7 linked regions of the Homo sapiens genome follow. The protein of the gene in region 6 purifies or fractionates together with the protein of the main gene of each other region. This does not show direct contact. Each region holds a gene or a part of one and is shown on either strand. Other genes may lie near its edges.

Region 1 (4,412 bases), on a different chromosome or scaffold from region 6:
CCCTACCACCCCACAAGCCCGCTTTTCCTCCTTCTGTTCCTTTCACTTTCCTCCTGAGAGTGCCCATGATCTTTTAGTATTACCAGTAATGGCACTAAAGCCAAAACAGCTGCCAACCGCTGGCCTAGAAATACAATGGATATAATTTGAATTAGAGACTACCATTAACTTTTTGGTTGTCCTTAGAAAACAACTTTATATTCTGTTTCAGTGGTCCAATCCAAAGGACAGAAAAAAAAATAACCACTGTAGAAAGTAAATCTATGTAAAAAAGAAATCTGTAGTGCTTTTTATCTCTAGCAATCTAACGTAGATTATACATACAAAGTTTATAATAACGATTTGCACATACAGGTCTCTGAATGACCAAACAAGGATAGAGGAGGACCAGAGATGATGTTTGACACCATCTGAAGTTTAGGGTCATGTTAGTTATTAAACTGTGTTATTTTTAAAAAATAATAAGGCTTAGAGTAGAGAGGAGAAAAGAATCAAGGCTAGAACTAGAATAAAAGGACTTCATTATTAGGTATTACAGTCTTGGGAAATGTTTAAGAGTTCCATAAAACCCTATGGGAAAGGTAAATAATCATGTTCCTACCACAATCCCCTCCCTCAAGTCAGGTGCTCTTGAAGCTGTGCTTTGATGCAGCATTCTCTTTATACAACAACCTCGGTGGTTCTAGGCTTCATCAAAGAAAAGGATTTTAGTGGATTTACTTTTCTCTTTATCTCTCTGGCTGATGGTATCTTTACTTTTTCTGTTTAATTTCACAAAATGGAAGCAAGAGACAATTTATCACCAGCACTGCACTCCAGGTTGGGAGTGAGAAGCACAGAAGAGGTGCTTCCAAGAGGCTACTAGAGGCAACAGAAACACTTTCTTACAAAAGCTCAGAGTGCTAAAGCTGGATAAACATAAATAGACAGCAAATAAAAGTTCATTGCTCCTGTCCAGCATCACGGCAACAATTCCGGTTCCTGTGGCCCCCTAATATGCTTCGTGTCTTACATCACTATGTGATAATACCCGCCTGAGGCTTCTCGGCCTGAAACACTCCTCCTCACCCTTCAAGTCTAAGCTCAAACACTCACACATCCTTGGAAAGCTTCTCTCACTATCCCAAGTAGGTGCCCCTCTCCCTTAGGTGTGCCTCTCACTGCTCTTTCATGACAGCTGCTATGCCTGATTGCAGCTATTTCTACCCCTGTGAATGTAGCTCTCCAGTCACCTGCCCAGCTTCTGAGGGAGCACCATGTCTTTCCCTTTCCATATCTCCTGGCACACGGTATGTACTTTATGTACAATTCACAGTGAAAGAACTGCCTAGGTTCTTTCACTAGAGAGACCCATCCATGCAAGTCTCTCCTTCCCAATCTCACCTAGTTTAGAACTTCATTATTATCACCTAGATTATTTGTCTCTTCACTGGTCTTCCCATTTCTGGACTCTCTTTCCTTGAATTCACTCCATATACACTACTGCCACTTACAACTCTAAGTAATTAATGTACCAAGTTGAACAGGTGGTGAAGTAGAGAATGAAAAGCTGGAAAACATCAATTCTCTAAGTTCAAAGGGTTCAAATCCAACAGAGCAGAAAGAGAAGTAGATAATTAACAGAACTTACCAGGTGCTGTACAGATACACCCAATTTATGCTAATCCCTCTGCGTGGCATGTCCTTCACTCTGAAATGCTCAATTCATATTTCACTTCATATAGGAAGCTTTCCTAATCTCTACAGCCAGAAGCAATCTCTCTTTCCTCTGCTCCCACAGTACCCTGTTACTCCGTTGTCACTTTCTGTTTGAATTACAGTCATTTGTACCCATACATTATACCTCTTACTGGACTGAACTTTTCTAAATGGAGGGCCAAACATCTATTTGTCTCTATTTTGCCATGGTACCTAACACAGTGCCCTGCAAATAGCTGATAAATAATGAATTATGATGATTAACCTCACTAAAATATTATGAGTCTGTGATTCCTTTAGGATTTGCCAGTATCAAGAATATCAATGGGTCATATACATGCAATTCAGTACTAAAATTTTCCACTCTAGCCACAAAAATAGAAAAAGTCTATTCTGTTTGTCTAGATAAGAGTCGACATATGGAGAACATCCTCAACCAGATCTGAAAATGTTCAAATGAAATGGATCGCTGTTGTGAAAAACACAACAAAGGGCAACTCCCTAGTACTACAATAAACTGAGCAACCAGCCTCTGCTGCCAAATACAGAAAAGTCGTAAGGGGCAAACACGGTGTGGTATTTCCACAATGGGAGCAGGTCAGTGGGTAGACACTTAACTAAGTAAAAATGAACACTGCTAGTAAAAATTAATTTAATAAAACAGACACTAGTACAAGATAGTATGTCAAAAATGGATCATTGAATAAGCTGTCTGAGCTCTCAAACATTATCACTTTCCAGAAGTGAATACTACTTGCAGCTTATCCATTCTTTTAAGGATCATATTCAATTTTCTACAAAAGTGCTTTTGTAGGCCGGGCATGGTGGCTCATGCCTGTAATCCCAGCACTTTGGGAGGCCGAGGCAGGCGGATCACGAGGTCAGGAGATTGAGACCATCCTGGCTAACACGGTGAAACCCCATCTCTACTAAAAATACAAAAAATTAGCCAGGTGTGGTGGCAGGCACCTGTAGTCCCAGCTACTCGGGAGGCTGAGGCAGGAGAATGGCGTGAACCCGGGAGGCAGAGCTTGCAGTGAGCTGAGATCGCGCCACTGCACTCCAGCCTGGGTGACACAGCGAGACTCCGTCTCAAAAAAAAAAGTGCTACTGTAAGATACCTCAGCAAGCCCTTGTTAGGATTCCCAATTCCTTAATTTCACTGTTTATGTCTGTCCTCCCTTCACCCTATTCCTTTATCATAATTGTTTTAGTTAGAATGTAAGCAATTGAGTGCACAATGAGATAGACAATAACTTAAGAATTAAGGACTTTAACATTTCATGATTTAAAATGCAGAACTAAAATTCCAGGTTCTCAATTCTCACAAAACAAAACAAAGCTCAAGGCTTAAAACTTTAGAAAATGCCATGCTATAATGATATTTACCCACTCCTAATTGGCTTAAATGAAGTCAGAACATTTGATTATATCATTTATTTCAGCACTGTAATTGCTAAGGGCAAAAACCTTGTCTCATCAACTAATTTTGTAGAGGCCTTAGTGAACGATTTGCTTGTAGCAGCTTTTACTCTACAAGGAAGACCAGTGTGTTAAATAAAGTGTTTATATTAGAGTCGAAAGACCTAAGTTTAAATTCAGGCTCTGTCTCTTATTTTGAGATCTCAGACAAGTCACTTTAATCTGAGTTCCTCTCTTTACCTGAAAATAGGTGTAATAGCCATAACCCTCACTGCCTAGACCACATGACTGCTATGAGGATTAAGTAAGGAAATGTGTAAAAACGCTTCATAAAACTATAAAGTGTAATACAAATATAAGGGCTCCTGGTATTATTCTTAAAATAAGTGCTAAGAGTAAATCCCTGTCTATAAGAAATCAGAATACAATTGAATTATTTCTGCATACTTTTCCCAAGAGAATTTATGTCTGACATGCAAAACTGTAAATAACTCCTAAAGGGGAAATTACCAAAAAAGGAAGGGAAAAAAGAGAAGAAAGAAAACTTGGGGTGGGACTAGAAGAGGGAGGTAAATTAAAGAGAAAAGGAGAAGTTTTTGTAGTAAAATAATGCAATGTAAGAGAGAGCAAACCTGATCTGAAGAAGCAATTTCTTTTTTTTTTTTTTTTTTTTGAGACAGAGTCTCACTGTCACCCAGGCTGGGCTACAGTGAAGTGGTCTCAGCTCACTGCAAGCTCCACCTCCCGGGTTGACGCCATTCTCCTGCCTCAGCCTCCTGAGCAGCTGGGACTACAGGTGCCCGCCACCACGCCCGGCTATTTTTTTTATTTTTAGTAGAGACGAGGTTTGGCCATGTTAGCCAGGATGGTCTCAATCTCCTGACCTCGTGATCTGCCCACCTCGGCCTCCCAAAGTGCTGGGATTACAGGCGTGAGTCACCGCGCCCGGCCTGAAGGAGCAATTTCTAACTCTACCACTTACTATCTACCTGTGTGTCCCTGGGCAAGTCACTTCACCTCTCTAAGCTCCAATTTCCTCATTTGTAGGTAGAGATAATAACTCACAAGATTGCTATAAGGATTAAATGAGATAATATATATAAAGTACTTAGCACTATGTCTGGTGCATAGTAAGGGATAAGTGGTTACTGGCATTGATAAAATTATCAGACCTGTGCCCTAATGGGTGACATTCAGAAAGAAAAAGGAATCAAGAACATTTAAGAGGGAAAGATGATGTTCAGGGAGCTAAATCTATATATTACCACTGGGAGACAAACTTTGAGAAATAT
Region 2 (4,412 bases), on a different chromosome or scaffold from region 6:
TCTCTACTAAAAATACAAAAATTAGCTGGGCATGGTGGCGCAAGCCTGTCGTCCCAGCTACTTGGGAAGCTGAGGCAGAAGAATCGCTTGAACCCAGGAGGCAGAGGTTCAGTGAGCCGAGATCGTGCCATTGCACTCCAGCCTGGGCAACAAGAGCAAGACTCTGTCTCAAAAAAAAAAAAAAAAAAAAAAAAACTATTTTTTTTTAAGGACTGCTTTTTTTTCTTCTTTTTTCTAATACAACTGTAACACCATTATCATAAGAGAGGAAAAAATAACAATAGTTTCTTATTATCAAATATCCATTAGTGTTTAACTGTTTCTGATATCTCATAATTAAGTTGGCTTGTTTGAATCAGTATCCAATACTAACAGATTGTATTTAGTTGGTCTATATTGTTTTCCATTATCTTTTCATATATTTTTTTCACATTTTTTACTATGAATGTATTCATTTTATAATGATGAGTATATCTGTTTTTTTGGAGGTATGGTCTTGCTCTGTTTCCCAGGCTGGAGTGAAGTGGTGCAGTTATAGCTCACTGCAGCCTCCAGTTCCTGGGCTCAAGTGATCATCCCAGCTGAGTCTCTCAAGTAGCTAGGACTATAAGCATGTGCCACCATGCCTGGCTAATTTTTATTGGTAGAAATGGGGGTCTCGTTATTTTGCCCAGGCTGGTCTCAAACTCCCGGCCTCAAGCCATCCTCCCACCTCAGCCTCCCAAATCATCGGAATTACACACATTAGCCTATGCGGCTGCTGGCTGATATATCTTTTAAGTCCCCTTTTATCCATAGGTTCCCTCTCCTCTTTTTTTTTTTTTTTTTGCTTTTTGTCATTTAATTTTTCGGAGAAACTGGATTATTTGTCCCTTGGAATTTTTGGCATTCTGGGTTTAGCTGATTGCATGCTATGGTGTCATTTGATGTGTCTGACCGTCTTCCGTGTACACTGGTAATTTCTCGAGGCTTACTCAGTATTTGATTCAGTTTGACAATTCTTTGTTCTTCCTGTTGCATCATGTCAGGAGGTCTGTAATGTCTCTCTGGCCTCTATTTCACTGATATTAAGATCAGGGAGCGTGTACTTTCAGATTTCCCTGAAGACTGCGTTTCCCAAAAATATTTTTAAAAAAAGGAAGAAAAAAAGATCAATCGGTGTATTGAGGTGTTGTCTGTCTGATCCATTTGTTTAATGTTCCCCATTAGCTTAGCAGGTATCACTGATCATTTGCCAAGTTCCTTAATTCATCAGGGATGGCACAGTGATATTCTAACATTCCCTCTTCATTTGAGGGCTGGACGTTTTCCATGAAGAAATTTTTTCATCAGCTCTTTAGCTACCCTGAGGTACTGTTTGTACAGAAAAGGCAGGAAAAACACTTGATTCTTTCCTTTTGTTTACTGGTTTTCAGAGTAATAAATTTGTTCCCTCTTGTCATCCAAAGGTGAACAGTGACGTTTTTGTTTTGTTTAGTTTAGTTAGTATCATTAGGAATTCTTAGATTTTAACATATTTGATATCTTTGAATACATTGCTTTTTTTGTTTTGTTTTTACTAGAGGTGGGGCCTTGCTGTGTTGCCCAGGCTGGAGTGCAGTGGCTATTCACAAGCAGGATCCCACTACTAATCAGCCCTGGAGTTTTGACCTGCTCCGTTTCTAATCTGCGCTGGTTCAACCCTCCTTAGGCTACTGGTCCCCTGCTCCCGGGAGGTCCTCATACTGATGCTGACCTTAGTGCAGACACCCAACTAGCATAGCATACTACAACCCTTGACTTCCTGGGCTCAAGCGATCCTCCCGCCTCAGCCTTCCGAGTAGCTGGGACTACAGGTGCACACCACCATGCCTGGCATATTGCAGTTTTAAAAAATGTATTTATTTTAAAGCTCAGATTGCCCCAACTTTGGCCAGTGGAAGTCTCTTCAAATTGGCTCCTAAATCCTTTGAATGTAACTCCAGTGGTCTTTAATGATTTCCTTGCTATCTAGGATCATGCTGCCCTCTAGGATCATGCTGCCCTCAACTTGAAATCATCCATTTTTCTTAGGAGCTCTGTTTCTTTTTAGTGCAAATAATGTTTAGAAACCACAGTTTTGATGCTAGAAATACCATTTGCCTAATGGATTGCTTGTTGTTTCTAGGCCTTCTCAGTGGACAATTAGAAAATATATTTTGTTTTGTTTTGTTGGAGAATAGGCATTATGAATTCGGATTTATATTCCTAATTTGGATTTGTAATTACTGGATTTCTGTTTAACTTCTTGGATTTTGTTGTTTTTTTTTTTTTCTGGAAATCTTGATTCTTAACAGCATTAACATAGATAATTAATTGTTCTATCGTTTTAAGATAGCAATAACCATATGATTACTGAAAACAGTTTAAGATTTCCTTGCCCATTTTACCCTTAGAATGTTTAGCACATTATTTTCTGGCGCGTTCAGCTACCAATTTGATACACCGGTTTATATGCATTGTTTTGCTTTTGATTTTTAGTTATTGCTTTTTAAATTTTAGTTTAATTCTGTTTTGTGGATATGTGAAACATTTACATAGTTTCAGAGTTAAATCTGCAAAAGTCCATCCCCACCAACCCATATATAGTGGTATTGCTCATTCTTATTTACAACTTGAGAGTATTCTATTAGATATTTCCTTCAGGATATATCTATCATAAATATTTAATCAGCCAGTCTCCTGTTGATAGACATTTGGGTTGTTTCCAGTATTTTGCTGTTATAAGTAGGCAGCTATTTTTTTTTTTTGACATCTTCTAATTTGTTAACCCTTTAACTTTGCCCCAGTAGACAAACAGTATCCTCCCAATTGACTCTAATAACTACGTAAAGTATACGGGATGTTCAAAGATACAGTGTTGACCTTAGTTCATCAGCAGGCCCTTATTTTGAGCTCTGTTTGTGTATGTAGCACATAGCCCCTAACAGTGGGGATTAGAGAGACATATAAGAAGTGTGGGCCAGATACAGTGGCTCATGCTTGTAATCTCAGCATCTTCAGAGGCCGAAGCGGGAGGATTGCTTGAGCCCAGGAGGTCGAGACAGCCTGGGCAACATTGTGAGACTGTGTCTCTACAAAAAATAAGAAAAAAAATTAGCCAGGCATGGTAGTGTGCACCTGTGATACCAGGTACTTAGGAGGCTGAGGTGGAATGATCACTTGAGCCCAGGAGGTCAAGGGTGCAGTGAGCCGAGATTGCTTGCACCACTACATCCCAGCCTGGGCAACACAGCAAGACACTATCTCAAACAAACAAACAAAAGGAAGCGTCATAGAGCACACTGGCTATTTTGAATGTTTAAGGAAGTTTAATAAAAATGGAGCTCTTGGGAAATAATTTTTAGTAAGACTTGAGATGAGTCTTAATAGTTGAGTTAACATTTAGGTTATTCTTTTCAGTGTCATCATTGCTTCATCCTGTTCAGGTAGGGAAGCATTTTAATCTTGGCTACTTCAAATCCCTTTATAAGAAGGATTACCTCTATGATTAGGAGATCGTTTATTAGCTCCTGCTATACTCTAGCTTATGGAGTCACATGATGTTTAGTCAGATAGCTTCCCTTAGGCAAGGCCCAGAAACCCACTTGGAAGGCCAGTCTGTAGTGCAGGAGGCAGCCTGGTGCAATGGATGGAGCCTAGCAGTGTAAGGGACTGCTGCTGTGTTGTATTTTAATTCCCTGAGGTCTCTATCATGAGATTTTAGGCCTAGCCTCAAGACTTTTCTACTTGCCCTTGCCTTTGGCTTTAGCACTGGTCTTCATTGTTTTTGAGACATTTGTCTTTTGTGACTATTATTCTGGGACAGGCCCTTATTCATCTCCTCATTTCTTGCTCAGTTTCAGGCAGTACATCCAGCAACCCAGAAACCAGCAATTGCTCAGTTCCCTGTGGTGTCCCAAGGAGGCTCTCAACAGCAGCTAATGCAGAATTTCTACCAGCAGCAGCAGCAGCAGCAACAACAACAGCAACAGCAACAGCTGGCCACAGCCCTGCATCAACAACAGCTGATGACTCAGCAGGCTGCCTTGCAGCAAAAGCCCACTATGGCAGCAGGACAGCAGCCCCAGCCACAGCCAGCTGCAGCCCCACAGCCAGCCCCTGCCCAGGAGCCAGCGGTAAGAATCAACCAGAGCTCAGAGCACAAAAGCAGCAGAGGAATGTGCAGCGAGAGCTAGGGGAAGGGTGGGAAAGATGGCAGCAGCTGATGAGGGTCCAGGTTGCTTTCCCACCTGGGTGGTTCAATTATTTGATCTTTCCTTGATATATCCAAGAATAGTATGGATGTTCTATAGAAGATAGAGGTTTTTTTAAAAAAGGATTCTAGGCTACTGATGAAGAGCCTTCTTAATTTTTATCACTCTGAAACTAGGCTAGCAGGAAGATCTGTTCAT
Region 3 (3,500 bases), on a different chromosome or scaffold from region 6:
GTTTTAATTAGTATTATGTGTTGAATGTTATTTGAATGTTCTTTTTGGTAAGTATTGAGAGTTTTGTTTTTATACTTGGCCCATTAATATATCACAAAATCATTCTCATAAATCCTTTGATAAATCCCATTTGGCCTTAGAGGATTATTTTTACAAATATTTTTTAAAATTAAGTTTTACTAGCATTTATGATTTTCTTTATCCATTAGTGAAATTGGTCTTTTTTTTTTTCTTTTGTGTGTGCGCTTTGTATTTATCTGTCCATTTTTCCCCTTACTTGAAGATACTGGTTCCAGAACTCTGTGCTATACATCCAATTCCAGCATCACTGTGGAGAAAAGCTGTTTGTCTCCCCAGCATACTTTATCGCCTTCACTGCCTTTTGACTGCAGAGGAGCTAAGAGCCCAGACTGCCAGCGATGCTGGCGTGGGAGTCAGATCACTTCCTGCGGATTTTAGGTATGCCTGTGCAGTCAGCCAGAAAGAACACAGATCATGAGATCCTGTTTGCAAAAGAACAGAATTAAGTTAAAATTGTATATAAAATAATTCTTAAAAGAGTAAAAAGAAAATAATGGATATCTTATGTCTTGTCAAGTCTCAGAGGGAGATGAGAATCTGAGGTCAGAAATAACCATTACTGCTTAAGCCATAACAGTTGGAGTGAGAATGAAATTGTTCTTTGTTACTGCATCAGCATTTTCAGTCTGTTTTTTCTTTTAAAAATCCAAATATATGTTAAAAAGCAATAGCCTTAGCATGTTCTTTGTCTTCATTATTTTCTTCCCATTAGTAAAATCTCTGCATTCTAAAGAAACTGTTGGCTTAAACACTCACATTAGTTCTGGTTATCCAATTGGCAATATCAAGACTGTTCTAGGGATTGAAGGAATTTTAAAATATAATAGGAATAACCACAATATTTATTGGTTAGTTGCTATAGTGCCAAACACTAGCTTAAATGCTGTACCCTGTGTTAGTTAGCTCATTTAATCATTAAGACAGTGCTATGAGATAGGAATTGTTAGCCCTTTTCTCAGGTGCAGAAGCTGAGGCACAGAGAGTTTATGTAAGTTGCCCAGAGTTACTCAGCGGGTTAACCAGAGTGCCTGGGATTCCAACCCGTGAAGCTAGGCCCCAGGTCCTGCAGGATGCCTGCAAGCTTCGTGACCTTCTTAACTACCACACCTAGAGTCTAGGGCCAGGGATTAAAGCAGTAGATAAAACCATGTCCCACTTTATAATTTACACTGTAAATTAAAAATTTGGAAACTTGCTTCTATTCTAAAGTTTAGGAGTACATTTTTGGGATCTTTGTTTTTGTTTTTAAATTCAAATTGCTGTTGCTCTCAGCCTAGCTGTTTTGAAGAATCTGATGTAAAGTTATAAAAATGTCTTTGCAGATACCCTAACTTAGACTTCGGGTGGAAAAAATCTATTGACAGCAAATCTTTCATCTCAATTTCTAACTCCTCTTCAGCTGAAAATGATAATTACTGTAAGCACAGCACAATTGTCCCTGAAAATGCTGCACATCAAGGTGCTAATAGAACCTCCTCTCTAGAAAATCATGACCAAATGTCTGTGAACTGCAGAACGTTGCTCAGCGAGTCCCCTGGTAAGCTCCACGTTGAAGTTTCAGCAGATCTTACAGCAATTAATGGTCTTTCTTACAATCAAAATCTCGCCAATGGCAGTTATGATTTAGCTAACAGAGACTTTTGCCAAGGAAATCAGCTAAATTACTACAAGCAGGAAATACCCGTGCAACCAACTACCTCATATTCCATTCAGAATTTATACAGTTACGAGAACCAGCCCCAGCCCAGCGATGAATGTACTCTCCTGAGTAATAAATACCTTGATGGAAATGCTAACAAATCTACCTCAGATGGAAGTCCTGTGATGGCCGTAATGCCTGGTACGACAGACACTATTCAAGTGCTCAAGGGCAGGATGGATTCTGAGCAGAGCCCTTCTATTGGGTACTCCTCAAGGACTCTTGGCCCCAATCCTGGACTTATTCTTCAGGCTTTGACTCTGTCAAACGCTAGTGATGGATTTAACCTGGAGCGGCTTGAAATGCTTGGCGACTCCTTTTTAAAGCATGCCATCACCACATATCTATTTTGCACTTACCCTGATGCGCATGAGGGCCGCCTTTCATATATGAGAAGCAAAAAGGTAAGAGATGATTTTTTTATTTTGAGCAGTTAATTATTCAGTGTGCCTGAAAGTGGTTTGCAGTGTTGGATAATCTCAGAGGATGAGAACGTATCATGCTCAGAAATTGCTACACCGGCCAAGCACAGCTGCTCCCTTGTTCTACCAGGGCCAGCGAAAGCCTGTGGCAGAACTACCTGGCAGTTGATGAGTATTGCTTTACACCAATCCCACACTCAGGTTTTGGGGCTTAGCTGATCTCCACGTGCCTTACTTTTTGATTGAAAGTCAGTTCAAAGGAAGCTATGCAAGTGTGTACACCCCTTGATCCTGAGGGGGATATGAAGAAATGTGCATTGTAGTCAGTCAAGGAGCTTCTGCTTTGTTGAGTTAAACATTTATTTGAGAGGGTACGTCTTGGCTTACAAGGCATACAGACATGAGTAAGACACAAGTCTTGTGGAGGAGCTCATCTCCAAAGTTTTGGAGAGTGGAGCGGAGAAGAGTAACAAGCTTCACAGAGCTTGGCTGCTCTCCAGTGTGAAGAGGGTGACACCAGAGTTCTGAGTAATTAACGCTCGATAGCTCAGAGAAAGGGCGGGCTCTTAAACTCAGCATGGACTAAGACTTAAGAAAAGGAATGAAGGTAAGATATTCAAGTTATGGGGGAAAAATGGAAAAAAGTCTCACAAGGCAACATGAGCCTCCTGGACAAATACCTTAGAAAGCTGCTGATCACTTGCAGCACTCAGAAGGAAGGAGCATCACTGTTGAATCAAGGATGGCATTAATGGAGGAGGCAAGTTGACAGTGCATAAGCAAAGTGAACAGATGGCAGAGCATGTCAGCGTCAGGGAAGCAGCCGTGGCAGCAGTCAGAAGTGTGGAAATACCTGAGAAAAGGCTTGAAAAGGCAGCTGGGGTGAAGCTGTATCGTGGAAGGCCTTGAATGCTGGGCTAAGGAGTTTGCACGTGTTTTGAATGTTGTAGGCACTGTTGAAGGAATTTAGAGCAAGGAACTATTAATGTTAATAAAGTGGTAGTTTAAAATGATTAATCTGGTAGCAGAATGTAGTGTGAGTTGAAAAGCATATCCAAACCAACAGCAGAAGCAGAGAATGGGATAGAACTAGAGTTCTGGTAGAGAGGAAGGGGCTGAGGTGAGTGAGAATTTCAGAAGAAATAATTTTAGCTAACAATTTAAAAGTGCTTACTCTGCACTACTCTAAAAGATAACCGTATACGCACACACACGTACACACACCCACATATATACACATATATGCATATAAACCTAATTTAATTTTTATAATTCTGAGAGGTAGAAACTTTTATTTT
Region 4 (4,412 bases), on a different chromosome or scaffold from region 6:
GCTTAAGGGGAGATGATACCAGGGCTGGGCCACCTCTGGAGGGCTTCGAGGGGACATGCTCAGGATTGACTCCTAGGCAATGGGCTTATTCATTCATTCATTCATTCATTCATTTTAGAGACAGGGTATCACTCTGTCACCCAGGCTGGAGTGCAGTGGCATGATCATGGCCTACTGCAGCCTCAAACTCCTGGGCTCAGGCAATCTTCCCATCTGTCTCAGTCTCCAGAGTAGCTGGGACTACAGGCATGTGCCACTACGCCTGGCTATATTCAATTTTTTTTTTTTTTTTTGTAGAGAAGGCATCTCGTTATATTGGCCAGGCTGGTCTCAAACTCCTGGGCTCAAGCCATCATCTTGCCTCGGCCTCTGAAGAGACTGGGACTACAAGTGTGTGTCACAACACCAGGGTTGGGCGGTTTTAATAAGGGGAGAGGAGAAAGAGACTGAGCACATTCCCCAGCCCTTCAGGAGGCAGGGGGTTTCCGGAGGGTCCCGGGACCCGCCTCAACTTCCACCCAAAGTGGGAAGGGAGAAATGGCCCCGTCCTTAACCGAGGGACCAGCCCACATCCTTGCCGCCAGTCATGATGGGGTGGGTGCCGCCCCATTGAACTTCACGGATGCCCTACCCTCTTCCCCACCCTGCCCTTCTCACTCCAGGTTTGGCTCCTTGAAGCCAGGTTTCCACCGCACACCCGAGGCCCCGCCCCTCTTCCCCAGCTGGCCCCGCCCCTCGAAGCCCTGCCCTCATCTCTGCCGGCCCCACCTCCGCGCCCCGGCCAGGCTCACCTTGGTCTCCGCCAGTTGTCGCTTGAGCAGCTGCAGCGCTTCGGTGTGTTCCCGCTCGCTGTCTTGAAGGGCCTGAAGTTGGTCCTTCAGCTCCCTCTGAAACACACACAGGGCCGGGATGGGGGCAGGGGCCATGCCTGGCCCAGGCATTCAGCCCTGACCACTGCCAGGCGCTGGGGGTTAGCCTGGTCTCTGTCCCCAACCTCCAACACTTGCCTCCCGTCACAGTTCAACCACCAGCAAGTCCTGTAGAGTCTGTCTCCTAAACACCTCCAGAACCCGTCCGTATCTTTCACCTGCATCTTTGCAACAACCTCCTCCTCTTTGGCCACCCTAGAGGCTTCTGTGACAATCGACTTCCACATACACACTCTCTGGCTCCCCACACTTGGCCCTGGATCCCCGCTTAGAATTAAGGCAGGGGTCTCCAACCCCCAGGCCACAGGTGGGTATTGGTCCATAGCTTGTTAGGAACCTGGACGCACAGCAGGAGATGAACAGTGGTGGGGAGGGGCAAACCATCTGTATTTGCAGCCGCTCCTCATCGCTGGCATTACCACCTGACTCCACCTCCTGTTGGATCAGTGGTGGCATTAGATTCTCACAGGAGTGTGAACTGCACATGGGAGGGATCTAGGTTGCCTGCTCCTTATGAGAATCTAATGCCTGATGATCACTCACTGTCTTCCATCACCCCCAGATGGGACTGTCTAGCTGCGGAAAAACAAGCTCAGGGCTCCCACTGATCCTACATCATGTTGAGTTGTGTAATTATTCCATTATATATTACAATGAAATAATAATAGAAATAAAGTGCACAATAAATGTAATGTGCTTGAATCATCCTGAAACCATCACCCCACCCCCACCCCCTGCGGTTTGTGGAAAAATTGTCTTCCATGAAGCTGGTCCCTGGTGCTAAAAAGGTTGGGGACCACTGCTCTAAGGAACCAAAGCTGTACCAGTCCAATGCTACAGACTAGCTGCCAACATTCTCCGAGGGCTACAGTGGGCTGGGCACAGTTCTTAGCTCTTTGCTTATATTAAATCATTTGGGCCTCTCAGTAACCCTAAGGGAGGCACAATTATTATCTCCATCTTCTGATGGAGAAAAAGATACAGAGAGGTCAAGAAACTGGCCCCATAGCATACAGATAAACATATAATGGTAAAGAAGGAATTGGAACCCGGACAGCCTGGTTGTGGAGACCATGATCTTGATGCCAGGTGACACGTTTTCTACCATGATGACTCCTGCGATGAATAACAACAAATCCACAACACACAAGATATCAAAATTTTAAATAAAAACACAATCAGCCTCACTGATTTTTCCTTTGTCTCAGGTTCCAGTGTGGCTCAGCAGAGCATTGTTAGTGATCCTGGCCTTGTTTGAAATGTTGAATTTTGTTCATCGTGGGTTTTTTGCATTAATTTTGATTTAAGAAATATTGCATTAAATACTATTCATCTTGATTGCTGAGTTTGGGGCACCCTCTGATCCCACCTCTGTCTCCAACACCCTCCCCCATCACTCCCATCCAGCCAGTGGCCTTCTTCCTGTGCCTCCACCATCTTGAGCTCGTTCCAATCTTCAGACTATGCCCTGGCTATTCCCTCTGGCTGGTGGCCTCCACTCTCAGAGTTTCTCACGGTGACTCCTTTGTACCATTAATTTAACTCAGATGCCACCTCCTTGAAGAGTCTTGCCTGACCGCCCCACGCACAGTGGCACCTCCTCATACCCTGTCACACATCTGGATTCACGGTCTTCCTTGCGCCTTCTGCTGTCTGAATATATTTGACTGTGTGTTTATTGCTTATCTCCTCACTAGAATGTGAGTTTCATGAGAGTAGTAGGAATCTTGTCTGGCTTGTTCCCTGCCTTATGCCCAGGGACTCAGTGATTATTTGTCAAGTGATAAATGGGTTGTGGAGGTGAGTGCTCCCTAGCACAGGGTCCAGCTGTCTGCAGGCATTGGGAATCTAGCCCATTGTATTATCGCCAGTTGTTCTCCTGTCTGTCTCTTCTTCGTCCCCGTATTGGCCCACAAGTCCTCCAGGGTGGCTCCTACTGCTCCCTCTCCATATACCTCACACCCAGCAACAGCCTGGCACTGAGATGGGACTCAATGACGCTTGCTGCGTGAATGAAGTTCCTGGAAATGGCCTCTGAGTTCCCCAAGTCAGTCTGGGCTGTGAGCAGTGCCAGGAAGGCTGACTTACCTGTTCACATCCACCTCCCTCCCACTCATTCAGCTTGTCAGACCAGGGAGGGCCTTGGTAAATGTCTAGTTCAATTAATTTTACAGACTAGGCAGCAACATGGGAAAATATTCATGATGACATGCTGATGGAAGAATGCAGGAAACAAAATTATCTTTGATTACTATCAATTATTCATTTAAAAAACATTTCTTGGGCAACTATTATGTACCAGGCACTGTTGAGGCACTGGGATTATGGCGAAGGACAAGACAGACACAGTCCCTGATCATAGGGACTAGTCTGGTGGGGAAGACAGACAACAAACAAGGAAAATAATAAAGGAGCGAGGTTACCAATATGGTGTGTCCTGCAGAGAAAATAAAGCAGTGTGAGATGGAGGGGACTTTAGGTAGGGTGGCCAGGGAAGGCTTCTCTGAGGAGGTGACAGCAGAAGGATGAGGAGGAGCCAGCCATGAAAATGGGGGTAAGATAGAAAAATACAAGCTGCTTGTTTTGAGAGCCCATGCTGATGCAATTGTTGGAACTCTGGCAGCCATCTCAGGCCATGAGGCAACTGTAAAGACCAAAGTCACAAGCTGAAACCAGAAGAGTAGAAGGAAGAAGGAGCCCGAGTCCCTGATGACTGTGGGGCTGCCACACCATCGGTTTACTCAGTGACATGCTAGGAAGCTGGCTGTCTGAGAAAAACTTTTTTTTTTAAATCCCCAACAGTGCCAATTTCCATGGTGTAAATGTTCCCACTCAAGTGGATTTCAAGCCATCAGTGTGAAGTAGTAGTTGGACTTGGCATTGGGATGAGATGCACACAATCAGCTCTCAGGAGCCAGTGCAACCTGCCGCAGCACACCCACCTGGAGTCCTTTCCTAGAGACTTGTCTTACATGAGAGAGAAACGCACCCCATCTGACTGCAGCTACTTCAGCCAGGGCTCTGTTACTAACAGCTGAAAGTCATTCCTAACATTCGTGTGCAGCTTGAGCGGATACAGTCCTCGGAGCAGAGGAATCTTGTTTGCCTAAGAGAGTAGAAAGACCGCTCCTCAGGTGCCTCTGACAGCCTTGGGCTATCCAGCCTGGGACACAGTGTGGCTGAGAGGCAGATGTTGAGGAGATGGGCCAAGTGCTACAATTCTCCCCCTGGTGGCCCCCATGGGTCCACAGAAGACCCAGCCACCCAGGCAGCTCTTCAGGATTTCTGAGAAACTGCCTTGGAGTCTGCCTTCCTCACATTGCTCAGGGCACTTGAGAAACCTGGACATTTCCTCCCTGATTTTGCAGTCAGGGAATAAGGACAGCGGGCTTGCTCCTTCCTCCTGGATCCCGGGAGAATCAGAACACTCATTTGCCCATTCCACAAACATGTGTTGAGACCTTGGGCCCCACATGGTGCTGT
Region 5 (4,862 bases), on a different chromosome or scaffold from region 6:
ATGCCAAGGTGTTATATTTTGGGGTAGTGTGCCCTGAACACCATCATAAACATGCTAGAAAAATTCTACAGCAAATTAGTGGACAAGGGGAAGGAGCTTAGGTATTAAAGATTGTGGAGAAGATCTATTAAAACACAGGGCCCCAATCCTCCTCTTAAGGAGTCTCCCCTTAAGAGACAGGGTTCACTTTCATCCCATATACTTCTGATTAAAAGGAGCCTCTTATACCCAGGAGAATACATTCCAGGTGCAGAAAGCCAATTACCTAGTTATTCCCTTACCCACGTAATTATAGACCTTAATCCAAATTCAAAGGACTCCTGGGAGATGCTGGAATCTGTAATTGTGTAATCTCTTTGATGAAGCACAGAGTGTGATCTTTTGCTCATGTGGGGCTAGGTTTCTGTGGAGAAGCTGGAAATGCTGTGGAAAAGGGCTTGCCCCTTTTGTGTATATGAACTCTAATGTAGTTGAAATTCCTAGAAGTCAAAGATATAAATCTAACTACTAAAATTCATTTAGTGCATTAAAATGCCAGTTATTAATTTACGGCAACAACTAAAGGGAAGCTTTGTATTATTCTAGGACTACAATGCAATTTATGCTTTGCATAATCATTCAGTAAATGACTTATTGCTCCAGAAATACCATCTTGCTAGATCCCATTCTGAATTCAGTGTTTCTGAGCAATCTCATCTCCAATACAGAGTGATGACATACTCAGGATTCCAAGACGGCAAAATGACTTGGGTAATGTAGTCTAGGGCCTGCCAGTGAGTATGCTGAGACAGACCAGAAAGACTTAAAGATTCCACTAATGTAGACAAAGCAAGCTGAGCCACAACTTCTCGGAACACCAACAGGATGCACCAACAATCGACAAAAAAAAAAAAAAAAAAGGAGATAAAGTTTAAAGTTTGTCTTCCAGCATTCCCTTACCCTATTTTCCCCTTCCTCTTCCCTACTTTATCAGTGGGAAAAGTTCTCAATAATGCAATTCTTACTGAGATTCTTGTGTTTATCAGAGAAATGTTTCCTCTTTCTTTGCCAAGGAATTATATATTCCCAACAGACATGGCGCTTGAATGCTATATTTCCTTTGGAATCAAGAAAGGGGAGGTGGGGGAATCAAAAATTAAAAACCAAACCCAAGCCATTGTTCCTCTTCGAGGAAGGGTGGGTGGTCAGTCGTCGCCTGAGCTCCGAACATCAACCCGCGGCTCTCAAGTTCCCCTCCCAGTAATGCTGGGCCCAGCCTCGCCGCGGCCGATCCAGCCTCTGCCCTAGGTGGAAGCGGGCCACCCGGTCCCTTCACCCACTGAGGCCCAGTCCTTTCGCCTCAACACGAAGGCACCTGGCCGGGCCGGAGCAGCAGCCGCGGGGCCGGCACTGGGGCCACGGAACCCCGGGCCAGACTCAGGCCTGGGCCAGCTCGGCTCCGGCCTGCAGGGGGCGCTGCGGCGGCACCGGCGCGAGGCCCGCGCGTGCGGGGAGCGACCCCAGGTGTAAGTCCCGGGGCGTGGGGCGCGTGGGTCAAGGCGGAGCGACCCAGGATCCCCGCGCCCGCGGCGGCCGCCGAGTGGCAGCGCTGGACTCGCGGAGAAGCTTGGGTACCTGAGCCGCGGTCCCGGGTGACACCCTCAGTGACGCCAGGCGCGTTCCTTCCTCTTCCTCTCTCCTCTCCGGCCCCGCCTTCCCTTCCCTCCGCCCACCTCCCTGAAGCGGAGCCGCCGTCGCCACCAGCGCCGTCATGTCGGCCCCCGCCGGGTCCTCTCACCCGGCCGCCAGCGCCCGGATCCCGCCCAAGTTCGGCGGAGCGGCCGTCTCAGGAGCCGCAGCGCCCGCGGGCCCGGGTGCGGGCCCGGCGCCGCACCAGCAGAACGGTGAGGCGGGCGGCCCGGGCGGAGCGCGGGGCCTAGCACCGGCTGGGCGGCCTGCACGGCCACATCGGGGCGGGGCGGGCCGGGCCGGGAAGGGCGTTCGGGGCCAGGCCCGGCCCGAGGGACGGGAGCGGGCGCGGTGCGGAGGCCGCGGGGTCCGGGTTGGGTGCGGGTAGGGGGCAGGGAAGGCACGGCGCGGGGCGCGCGGGGGTGGGACGCCCCTGGCGTGGGGGCGGGGGCCGGCCTGGGAAAGCTGGGGCCGTGGCTGTTTATGTAATGCGACCCCAGGCCCGAAACGGCCTCGGGCGAGTAGGGGCGACTGAAAAGCTGGGAGCCCACGTAGTAAAACCCAGTTACCTAGCCTGGACGCGGGCGAGTTGCCCCGAGCGACCCCTTGGCTGCGAGAGCTGGCCAGAAGCCGAGGCCGCTGAGTGCGTGGTCCGGAGAAGGCTGGTGCAGCCACCCAGCAGGGTGGATTGTGCCCTTCCTGTCTCAGGAAAATTGCTTCGGTTCCCGAGGCCCAGCGAACACGCTGCCTTGAGGAAACTTAAGTTTGCACTCAAGTTTGTAGACAAAAGGGTGTAAATATGCTATATAAGTGTAACTGTAACCCTGACCCAGTTCGGCCTCAAGAACTGTCATTGCCGCTGCGGCTGCTGCTCAAGCTTTTGGAGTTTGCTTGTAGTGTTTGAAAGGGAGCAGATGTAAACGGATTTAAACGAACATCTTTAGATCTGGGTGTTTTTCCTAGCTCCACTTTCAGAGATGAAAAAACGTGCCAGAGTTGGCCCTGCTTTGAGGCAGGGCCTTCATACAGGCAGCAGCCAAATGCAGCACGAAAGCCGCTTTCATATTAAGGTCGTGGGCTTTTAGTAGGCTGCAAAATGATGGATATGCATTCCCTAATGCTGAGATTTGGAATGTTCGCGGATAGGGGCCAAGGGTGGAGGAATTCTCCTTACAGACTTCTTAGTATGTCAGATGAGAACCTTGGAAAGTAATTGACTGAATTTAGAAAAATACCTCTGTCCTGTGTTGGTACGAGAACCAAACTGCATTAGTACTCTCCAGATGATTGACCTGTTTTATCTAATTTCCTAATGAAAATCTGCTGGACTTTATGAATTAGTTTAATCAACATCTAAGTTTTACAACTGATGCTTTTCAAACATGAAGTGTATCGTTTGTCCTGAGGATCAGAAGTTGAGTGATACTTTAGCCTTAATATTCTTTGGATCAGCCTTACCTATCAGTATTACATGCTGTACTCTCAGTAGTCATTGTTTACTATAATCGCTTTTGGATATAAACCTGTTCTGAACAAATGTAAAAATACTATTTGTGAGCAGTGTTTGTTCTTGTAACCTTAATATAAGTTCTTGTTTTTGTTTGTTTTTAAAATAGCTTTATGAAGGAACTAGAACACGATAATTTAGTAAAAGAGCCCAAGTCTTTTAGAACATTGTAGACTCATGTTTACCAGTGATTCAAGGATTGTGTCTTTCCTTGATTTTCTGAATATGCATTATCATCTTAGTGAACAGTTTTTAAAGTGGCAAATGTTTATTACAGCCTTATAAATTTTGTGAACACTCAAGAATGCCAGGATATGTACTCAGCCAAGTGTAATCAGGATGTTAAAATCTGTAAGAACAAATCAATGTTTTGATGCCAAATATAGATGATGCTTGAGTTCTCTTGTTTATAATCACTACTTTCCTTTAATGTTGCAATAATCATTTCAACATTTATTGCATGCTTACCAGTTGGGGACTCAAGGTTAGGGTAGCAGATGAGACAGAGTCCCTGCCTCTCTCCTGACTTGCCCTGTATTTGGTAATGTTTGAATTGGTTCTGGCTAGCCTTGAGGGACTCGACAGGTTGGGGTGGGAGGGAAAGGTTGACTCTAGGCAGAGGTTACAGCATGAACTAAAGTTTGGAAATATGAAAGTGCAGGGCATGCTTGGAAAGTGGAAGGAGTCAAGAGGTGCAGAGGGTGCTGGGTGGCATGGGAAGCCAAGGCATCGAAGCCGAAAGGAGCAGGTTAAAAGGGGTCAGGTTGCAGAAAGGCCTTAAATGTTATGCTAGGAAATTTGAAAGTTATGGTAAAGTGTAAGAACTAGGGTCAGGTAGAGTACGAGGTCTCCCTGTGTTGCCCAGGCTGGTCTGCTGGGCTCAGGTGATCCTCACACCTTATCCTCCAGAAGGATTTTTGTTTTTGTGGAAGGGATTAGTTTAAGTAGAGAAACAAGATTAAATCTCTTTTTGTTTTGTTTGCTAATCTCAAAAAAAAAAAGTTTGCTACGTGGTATCAGCATGTAGTAAGCAGTCATTTGGGTTTCTCATTTATTTTTCAGTCCTACAAAAGTAGTTAGCCTTTTAATATATCTCTATGGAATTCCAGACATGGTGAAAAAGAAATAGGTCAGAAATATGAGCATAAAACAGACAGAATTGTAAAACTGGAATGGTACCTAGAAATCACTCACTTCAGTGTTGTGGTGTGATATGAAATACGTTTGGCCTTTGTCCTGGGTTCCTGTAACAGCTCCTAAAACCCTTGTAATTTCCTGAGTGATAGGAGTGTCGCTTGCTACTCATAAGGAGTCTTTTGATCACATTTGAGTTTGTGCTAATGAGATGACTTAGGATGGGTCTCCTAGACAGCCTCAGGCTGGAGCTGGTAACCAGAAAGACCAAGTAATTAGAGAGTTGGGACTTTGAGTCCCCACCCATCATCCCCTTTGAAGGGGAGTGGATAGGCTGGAGATGAAGCTTTATAAAAACTCTGGAACAGTAAGATTTGGTGACCTTCTGGGTTGCTGAACATGTGGAGATGCTGGGAGGGTGGCGGCACCTGCCCCCATCCTTTGCCCTGTACATCTCTTTCATTTGGCTGTTCATCTGTATCCTTTGTAATATCCTTTATAATAAACAATAAATTTAAATGTTTTCCTGACTTCCACAAGCCCTTCTACCAAA
Region 6 (4,412 bases):
GTCTTCCTCCCTAATACCAGACTGATTTGTAAAGTGAGGCTCCATCGCTTGATTTAAACCTCTAGTGATATACTGTTACCCGGCAGATAGATTTCAAATAGTTTAACATAGCACACAAGACTGTGTACTTCATAAGCCAGTCCTGGATGTCTGTCTAGCTATTTTGCCGTTGCCTTCCACCTTGTACTTTGCCTCCCATCATACTAAATAAGTTTTCTTGTTCTTAGTTCTTTGTCTTTCATGTTTCCAGGACTTTGCATAAACTGATCTCTAGCTTGGAATGCTCAACAATCCCCTTCCCAGAAATCATTCTTTCTCATTTTTCTCATTTATTTTTTATAGCTTTCTTCATTATCTTTGTATCTTTTTGTCATTCCTTTGTACACCATAAATCCTTCTGTTGTTGCACTTATCACATGGTATAGTAATTCTGGTTAAATGTCTGCCTCATCAACTAAACCATCATTCACTGGGAGTATCATCTAGCACTCAATAATAAGTATTTGTCAAATCAAATTTAATATGGGGATCCAAAGCCTTGAAGAGAAGCTACATTTTAGAAGAAAGGATTTGGTAGTCTTTGAATATAGATGGTAGTTAAAACGAGGCATAGTTTAACAGGCTCTCATTTAAGTGTGTATTTTGAAAAAAGTCAAAGCATACAACAGAATCCTGGAGAACACCAATATTTAAGAGACAGAAATTAGAAAAGGACGTTAGAAAATTGTGTTTAAAGAGGTAGGAAGAGAGAACTACAAGAAAGAATTGTTACAGCTGTTGAGTAGCAGTAGTCGTTAACCAGTGATAAATGCAGCAGAAGGTTAAGTGCATTTTGGATTTAGCAAATCTCACAGGTGACCTTTGCCACAGTAGCTTCAGTGGAGTGGTGAAAGCATAAACCATAGTAAATTTAGGGCAAGGGTTTTCAACCTTTGTACTATTGACATTTTGGTCTGAATTATTGTTTGTTTTAGAGGTGCTGTGCTGTGCGGGAATGTTTAGCGGCTTCTGTCTAGCCTCTAACCACTAGATGCTAATACCTCCCCCCACATTGTGACAACCAGTTGTGACAAGCCAAAATGTCTTCAGACATTGCCACTGTCCGCTAGGGCAAAATTATCTCTGGTTGAGAAACACAGAGTGGTGGGATCTGAGTGGGAAAGCGAGAAGATGGAGTATTGGGAATACACTACATTTATAATGAAGGTATGATAGCTGGAGGAAAACAAAGTCAAAGAATGGTTTTATGGGATGAGCATGCATACTGTCAACATTTCCCAAATATGTTTTTACTCCTTCTTTAGCCCTGGAAATATTGGAAAGCTGTTGGGTCCATTGCCCATGCATCCTGCGGCTGAAGATAACTATGGTTATGATGCGTGTGCTGTACTCTGCTTACCCTGTGTCCCCAATATCTTAGTGATCGCTACTGAATCAGGAATGCTGTATCACTGTGTCGTGCTAGAAGGGGAAGAAGAAGATGACCACACGGTAAGTGCAGGCTGCTGTGGTTGTTTGTATCTTCAACACCTGGCATAGTTCCTGACCCAATATGAATGCTTAATATATGAGAAGGAATTTTAACTTACTTATGGAACTTCTGATATTTTGGAAATTAAACAGTTAAAAAAGTAGCTGAAGCACACTTAGCAGTCTAAGTGGAAAGAAGTTAGAAGGTTGCCCAACTTACTTGGTCCACCAGTCTGCATGTTACTTTCTGGTCTCTATATTGCAATCTTCAGGGACAGATACAAAGAGCCTTGGAATCACTGAATTGGCTTTTTTCACAAACATCTTCCTAAAGGAAGAGAGACGTTTTGTCTTCAGAATAACAGTGCACTGTTAGGATAGAGGTGGAATTAAGAATTTGAAAGTACTGTTTGACCCAGCTTTTTTTTCAATTTTTTTATTTATTTTTTATTATTATTTTTTGGAGACAGAGTTTCGCTCTTGGTGCCCAGGCTGGAGTGCAATGGTGTGATCTCGGCTCACTGCAACCTCTGCCTCCTGAGTTCAAGCGATTCTCTTGCGTCAGCCTCCCCAGTAGCTGGGATTACAGGCACCCACCACCACGCCCGGCTGATTTCTTGTACTTTTAGTAGAGACAGGGTTTCAGTATGTTGGCCAGGCTGGTCTCGAACTCCTGACCTCAGATGATCCACCTGCCTCGGCCTCCCAAAGTGCTGGGATTACAGGCAAGAACAGCCGCACCCGGCCCTGACCCAGCTTTTTGCCTGTTTTTAATTGTGTACATTTTCAAATTAACATGCAAGATCAAAATTACAACACTTTTTTTTACAGTCAGAAAAGTCCTGGGATTCCAGGATTGACCTCATTCCTTCTCTGTATGTGTTTGAATGTGTTGAGTTGGAGCTTGCTTTGAAACTGGCATCTGGAGAGGATGACCCTTTTGATTCTGACTTTTCTTGTCCAGTCAAACTTCATAGAGGTAAGCTCTTCAATAAATGTAGTGCTTTTTTCCCATGATTTTTATACTAAGACTATCATAGACTGTTCCTATGTAATGTATTTGTTCTGTGGTTCCAGCCTTTAAAAAGTTGACTGGGTTTTTTTTAGCTTTTTAGTCACTATAGTACACTTTTTGTCTAAGGCAGACTGAGCAAATTTCCCAAGTTTTAAAATAGTGGTCTTTGGTCCAGATCACCAGATTCCTAATAGTGAATTTTTCCTGGTCCTTTCAAAAGTAGAACTACCATGTTATTCAGTAGTTCCACTACTGGGTATGTCAAAAGGAAAGGAAATAATAGGTTGAAGGGATACCTACACTCCCATGCCCATTGCAGTGTTATTCACAACAGCTAAGATGCTGAATCAACCTGTGTCCATCGACAGACCAAATGGATTTTGTTGTTGTTGTTGTTGTTGTTGAGATGGTGTCTGGCTCTGTCACCCAGGCTGGAGTCTAATGGCGCAATCTCGACTCACTGCAACCTCCATCTCCCAGGTTCAAGCGATTATTTTGCCTCAGCCTCCCAAGTAGCTGGATTGCAGGTACCCACCACCATGCCTGGCTAATTTTTATATTTTTATTTCATTTATTCATTTATTTTGAGATGGAGTCTCGCTCTGTTGCCCAGGCTGAAGTGCAGTGGCACCATCTCAGCTCACTGCAACCTCCGCCTCCTGGGTTCAAGCAATTCTTCTGCCTCAGCCTCCCTAGTAGCTGGGACTACAGGCATGTGCCACCACGCCCTGCTAATTTTTGTATTTTTAGTAGAGACGGGGGTCTCACCATATTGGCCAGGCTGGTATCGAACTCCTGACCTTGTGATCCGCCCACCTCGACCTCACAAAGTGCTGGGATTCCAGGCGTGAGCCACTACGCCTGGCAATTTTTGTATTTTTAGTAGAGGTGGGATTTCACCATGTTGGCCAGGCTGGTCTCAAACTCCTGGCCTCAAGCAGTCCACCTGCCTCGGCCTTCCAGAAGTACTGGGATAACAGATGTGAGCCACCGCGCACCTGGCCCCAAATGGATTTTTAAAATGTGGCATTGTATACACAGTGGAATACCATTTGGCTTTTGTGTGTGTGTGTGTGATATGATCTCACTGTGTCATCTAGGCTGGAGTACAGTGGCGTGATCTTGGCTCACTGCTTTGCCTCCCAGGCTCAAGCAATCCTCTCACCTCAGCCTCTGGAGTAGCTGGGACTACAGGTGTGCACCACCACGCCTAATTTTTGTATTTTTGGTAGATACGGGATTTTGCCATGTCGTCCAAGCTGAAAGTCCTGAGCTCCAGTGATCCTTCTGCCTCAGCCTCTCAAAGTGCTGGTCCACAGGTGTGAACCACCATGCCCAGCCCTATTTGGCTTTAAAAAAGAATGAAATCGTGTCATTCACTGCAACATAGGAGGATTTCAATCTTGTAGCAGTTTGACCTACTCTCCTTACAGTTCTTGTTAGCCAGTTTGCCTAGTTCTGGTAATAACGGCCTCAACTCTGTACTAAAGTATAGGCAAAACATTTAAGGGGGCAGAATTCCTTACATAACAAACCAGCAAAGAGTGTACATTGGGTTTGTCTAATTAAGGTATTTTGAGATTTATATTGTCTAAGAATTTTATAGATGAGGAAACAGACCAAATGAAGTAAAGTGACATAAACTAATTGGTTTCCTCATATAGATACGTATATCTTTGGGAAATCTTAAGTGTAGACGTGGACGTTTTGTTCTTGGGTTTTGTTTTTTGTATTTTGTTTTTTGTTTTTTTTTTTGAGATGGAGTTTTGCTCCTGTTGCCCAAGCTGGAGTGCAATGGCACGATCTTGGCTCACTTCAACCTCCGCCCCCTGGGTTCAAGCGATTCTCCTGCCTCAGCCTCCCAAATAGCTGGGATTATAGTCATGCGCCACCAGGCCTGGCTAATTTTTGTATTTTTAGTACAGAT
Region 7 (4,412 bases), on a different chromosome or scaffold from region 6:
TTGAGAAGCTGAGGCGGGCAAATTGAGCTCAGGAGTTCGAGACCAGCTGGGGCAACATGACAAAACCCCATTTCAATAAAAAATACAAAAACTAGCCCAACATGGTGGGCATATGCGCTTGCAGTCCCAGCTCCTCCAGGGGCTGAGGCAGGAGGGTTGCTTGAGCCCTGGAGGTCGAGGCTGCAGTGAGCTGTATTTGTATCCCTGCATTCCAGCCTGGGTGACAAAGTGAGACCCTGTCTCAGGAGAAAAAAAAAAAAAGAAATTAATGTAGCTTCAACAGTAAATACAAGTCATGGACTGGCTACTGCCTAAGCAGTTCCTAAAGGCCTGGTGTGTGCAGACACCCAGCTAGGCACTGGGGGTGTAGTGGTGAACGGCACAGACATGGTCCTTAGCCTTGAGGAACTTAAGGAACTTCCAGCCTAGTTGGGAGAGATGAAAAAGATAAAATATTTTTCAGTAGTGGCTTGGCTGCTGCAAAGTTGATTTACTGTAGGTAATCGAGACAAAGTTTATATAATGTCATCCTATAGCCCATTAAAACAGAAAAAAAAAGGTGTAATGAGGTTGGTGTTCATAAGTACGAAATTGGTGTTTCTGTATGAAGGGCAATGTTAATATCTATTGCTAGAGTAATCACATTCACATGCTGACATGTTTGGTTTACAGCCAGAACGGTCAGGAAATTAAGCTGTTTATTTTCTGCCCTCTTGATAAAAGTCACACTTTTACAACATAATTAAGCAGAATGCCAAGCCATAGCTTTCAGCTATAAACACTGCTTTTAACATTAGGTAAGTAAGCTCATCCGGGGAGGGTTTTGTTTTTGTTTTGTTTTGTTTTGTTTTGCCATTGTAATTAACCTCAGTAGGATGAGCAGCTGTTTCATATTGCTCAAGCTGCAGGTAGCCTTGTTTCATTCTGAAGTGAGCTTCAGATACATGGTTGATTGTATTACCCCCAGCTACTGCTTAAGACCAAAGTAGAAGGTTTTTCTCCACCCTTGTAAGTATTTGTTTTCTGGAATTCTGGGAACTTTTGTTTCTGATAGGATCTAGAGCTATGGACATTTGTCCTTGGCATCCTTAGAGGCTTCTTTTGGGATCAGTGTAATTCCTGATTGAAGCCCAGTGCATGCATCAGAGAAGGCACTTCTTGACCCTTTTCTTCTTTGAGGTTAGGCTTCAGCTGTCTTAGAATGAGGCTGATTGAGGGTCTCCAGAAGGTCAGTACTAGTAAGATCTGAAGACTTAAGATTTTGCCCAATGTGAGCTGGTCCTTAAAAAGCAAATCCTTTGTATTCCTTTCTGAAGTCTTGCTGAATGCCGTTGTAGCAGCCAGGGTTCCTCATTGCAAAAAACAGAAAACACTTCTGTTAATGCACTGAATTTGGGATACTGAGTCTGACAGAATCTCCCAAAAGGCTGGAGAAGCAGGCTTGGAAAATGGTGAGAGAACCAAGAGCTGTGTGTAACTACCCCTAGCAACTAGAAGCTCCTGTCACTCTTTTGCATCTCCTCCTCCAGGTTCAGTGACCCAGGTGGGAGTGTCAAGTAGCTGGATCTCACTCACAGGTCCATGACCTAGCTGCTGGAGGTGGGGACATGGGGGAGGTTGGAGCAAGTGAAAAATTGGTCTTTTTAGCTTCCTTCAATTTGGGGGTTTCGGGGGTTAGTGCTCAAGATGTAGTCCTCTTCCCACCTGCCAGGGACTCGGAAGCTGCATGGTTGCCCATCTTGTTTCTTTCCTTATCCTGCGTTGCCCTAAGGTAGGGAAACCTAGCTGTCAAATCCCTTTAAACCAACATACTCACTGCATACACATCTTACAGTTAAAGCATGCCTAATTGCCCAATGTTTTATACAGAATTATTTGCTCAACTAATACTGCACAAGGGTAGAGAATTAAAATGAAAGGCTTTATGTTTAATATGGTCTATTAACTGTGGAGGGCACTGGAAATTGCCAGGCAGGTATAATAGAAAGTAGGTCATTTATTCACCACTTAGTGTAAGTGGTTTTTTCTTTTCTAGTAATAGCCATTCATTTTATCTGAAACTAATCTATTTTTAGAATCCTAACAGCTGGTTCCGATTATAAATGTTTTTTAGCCTCTGTCACACCAAGAACTTCAGAAACGTCTCAAAAACATCATATAATGTCTACCAATATACTGCTATTAAGAAACATCTTGCATACATTCTTCAGTATGCAAAGGACATTCATATCATGGACATGAACATCTTTATTAAATAAAGGCTGGGCCGGGTACGGTGGCTCATGCCTGTAATCCTAGCACTTTGGCAGGCCGAGGTGGACAGATCACCTGAGGTCAGGAGTTTGAGACCAGCCTGGCCAACATGGTGAAACCCCATCTCTACTAAAAAAAAAAAACAAAATTAGCCAGGCTTGATGGCACATGCCCATAATCCTAGCTACTTGGGAGGCTGAGGCAGGAGAACCACTTGAACCTGGGAGGCGGAGCTTGCAGTGAGCTGAGATCATGCCACTGCACTCCAGCATGGGTGACAGTTAGACTTCATCTCAAAAAAAAAAAAAAAAAAAAGGCTGAAGCCTGGTTTTGGTTCAAAAAGAATCAACAATATGAACCCATAAAATGAAATACCTCACAATAAAGCCAGAAATCAATATAGTCCCTTTAAACCTCTAGTTTTACTGATACATAATTTTTTCCCTCTTCAGGTGATGTTCTGATTAGTGTTGGCCATGCCAATGTGTTAGGATATACTCTTCGAGAATTTTTACAGCTTTTGCAACATATCACTATTGGAACAGTGCTACAAATCAAGGTTTACCGAGATTTTATTAACATTCCTGAAGAATGGCAAGAAATATATGATTTAATCCCTGAGGCCAAATTCCCAGTAACAAGGTAAATAGTTCATTTTAGGAACTCTTTGTTATAATACAGAATCCCAGGGCCTGTGAGGCATAGATGGTTTAATGTGACAATTATCAAATGATAAGGATCATGACAGGAGGACTGGTGACACTGTCAGAGTAATTTCCTGGGTTTCTGGTATTAGATCTGTAGGATCTAATATGAGAAAGCACGATGAAGTCAACCTGGAGTTAAAAAACAAGTCATCGGTTGGGAATTTTGTCCCCATGCCTACCTGTATGGTGCCCCTCTTTCCCGAGTCAGCCCTTAAAAATGCTTCTTGTGGGCCAGGTGTGGTGAATCATGCCTGTAATCCCAGCACTTTGGGAGGCTGAGGCGGGTGGATCATGAGGTCACGAAATCGAGACCATCCTGGCCAACATGGTGAAACCCCGTCTCTACTAGTAAATTACAAAAATTAGCTGGATGTGGTGGCGCGTGCCTGTAATTCCAGCTATTCGGGAGGCTGAGGCAGGAGAATCGCTCGAATCAGGGAGTCGGAGGTTGCAGTGAGCCGAGATCGCACCACTGCACTCCAGCCTGGAGATAGAGCGAGACTTTGTCTCAAAAAAAAAAAAAAAAAAAAAAAGTGCTTCTTGCAAATCCTATTTTCTTTTCCGTATTCAACTTTTTGTTCTCTGGGTCCTTCCCAATAACATCTAAGCCTTTTTAAACTTCTCCCATCTTGGCAAATCCTATCTTCAGTCCACTCTCCTCTCCCTACCCTCTTTAGCCACTGGAGTCTTTTGCATCCACTCCCAACTTGCTAAAAGCTGTATTAGACACCTCTGTTTCCTCGAAAGACGCCACTTCCCAGACACTCCTCCACCCACTTCAATCTAGGCTTTGCTTTCATCCCTTGGCTGAGTCCTTTTCCCAGGGCCACCCATAGCCTTCACACTTCTGATCCCACTAGATTCTTCTGTCTTTATCTTGCTTGGCTTCTGAGCAGCATTAGACACTTAACAATTTCCACCCACTCTCTTCTTGAAATAGCACTTCCCAGGCTTCTGTGACACCACACTCCCCTGATTTTCCTGTTACCTCTGGCCATTTCCTCTTGGTGTCCTTTCTCCTAGCCAGTTTCATTGATGCCTGTGGTTTCTATGACTATCCACATGCTAATTACTTTCAAACTGTATTATCACCAAAACTGTATTTTTTTTTTCTTGGAGACGAGGTTTTGCTCTTGTCACCCAGGCTGGAGTGTAGTGGCGTGACCTTGGCTCACTGCAACCTCTGCCTCTCGGGTTCAAGTGATTCTCCTGCCTCAGCCTCCAGGGTAGCTGGGATTACAGGCGCATGCCAACACACCCAGCTAATTTTTGTATTTTTAATAGAGACGAAGTTTCACCACGTTGGCCAGGCTGGTTTCGAACTCCTGACCTCAGGTGATCTGCCTGCCTCGGCCTCTCAAAGTGTTGGATTACAGGCATGAGCCACCAAGCCTGGCCAGAATGATCTTTTTGTAATGCAAATCTGATCCTGGCATGTTCCTGCAAAAAATC

What was found.
Region 1: the proteins of NUP88 (region 6) and STK38L purify together in Homo sapiens (pull-down; one large-scale study listed by IntAct). This does not show direct contact.
Region 2: the proteins of NUP88 (region 6) and AAK1 purify together in Homo sapiens (affinity purification with mass spectrometry, with the first as the bait; one large-scale study listed by BioGRID). This does not show direct contact.
Region 3: the proteins of NUP88 (region 6) and DICER1 purify together in Homo sapiens (co-immunoprecipitation; one large-scale study listed by IntAct). This does not show direct contact.
Region 4: the proteins of NUP88 (region 6) and TRIM62 purify together in Homo sapiens (affinity purification with mass spectrometry; 2 studies listed by BioGRID and IntAct, with this or other methods). This does not show direct contact.
Region 5: the proteins of NUP88 (region 6) and SEC24B purify together in Homo sapiens (affinity purification with mass spectrometry, with the first as the bait; one large-scale study listed by BioGRID). This does not show direct contact.
Region 7: the proteins of NUP88 (region 6) and PDZD9 purify together in Homo sapiens (affinity purification with mass spectrometry, with the first as the bait; one large-scale study listed by BioGRID). This does not show direct contact.

The regions. Positions count from the first base shown.
Region 1 is NC_000012.12:27,250,378-27,254,789, reverse strand, and holds part of STK38L (serine/threonine-protein kinase 38-like), read right to left. Parts: intron 1-4,412. UniProt on the Homo sapiens protein: Involved in the regulation of structural processes in differentiating and mature neuronal cells.
Region 2 is NC_000002.12:69,514,195-69,518,606, reverse strand, and holds part of AAK1 (AP2-associated protein kinase 1), read left to right. Parts: intron 1-1,560; exon of another isoform or gene 1,561-1,856; intron 1,857-3,857; coding exon 3,858-4,136; intron 4,137-4,412.
Region 3 is NC_000014.9:95,102,030-95,105,529, reverse strand, and holds part of DICER1 (endoribonuclease Dicer), read left to right. Parts: intron 1-283; coding exon 284-459; intron 460-1,403; coding exon 1,404-2,184; intron 2,185-3,500. UniProt on the Homo sapiens protein: Double-stranded RNA (dsRNA) endoribonuclease playing a central role in short dsRNA-mediated post-transcriptional gene silencing.
Region 4 is NC_000001.11:33,164,680-33,169,091, forward strand, and holds part of TRIM62 (E3 ubiquitin-protein ligase TRIM62), read right to left. Parts: intron 2,117-4,412; exon of another isoform or gene 888-2,116; coding exon 792-887; exon of another isoform or gene 1-791. UniProt on the Homo sapiens protein: E3 ubiquitin ligase that plays a role in antifungal immunity by mediating 'Lys-27'-linked ubiquitination of CARD9 downstream of C-type lectin receptors; leading to CARD9 activation, followed by activation of NF-kappa-B and MAP kinase p38 pathways.
Region 5 is NC_000004.12:109,432,120-109,436,981, forward strand, and holds the start of SEC24B (protein transport protein Sec24B), read left to right. Parts: upstream 1-1,695; 5' UTR 1,696-1,750; coding exon 1,751-1,883; intron 1,884-4,862. UniProt on the Homo sapiens protein: Component of the coat protein complex II (COPII) which promotes the formation of transport vesicles from the endoplasmic reticulum (ER).
Region 6 is NC_000017.11:5,402,136-5,406,547, reverse strand, and holds part of NUP88 (nuclear pore complex protein Nup88), read left to right. Parts: intron 1-1,304; coding exon 1,305-1,491; intron 1,492-2,301; coding exon 2,302-2,449; intron 2,450-4,412. UniProt on the Homo sapiens protein: Component of nuclear pore complex.
Region 7 is NC_000016.10:21,987,085-21,991,496, reverse strand, and holds part of PDZD9 (PDZ domain-containing protein 9), read left to right. Parts: intron 1-2,705; coding exon 2,706-2,895; intron 2,896-4,412.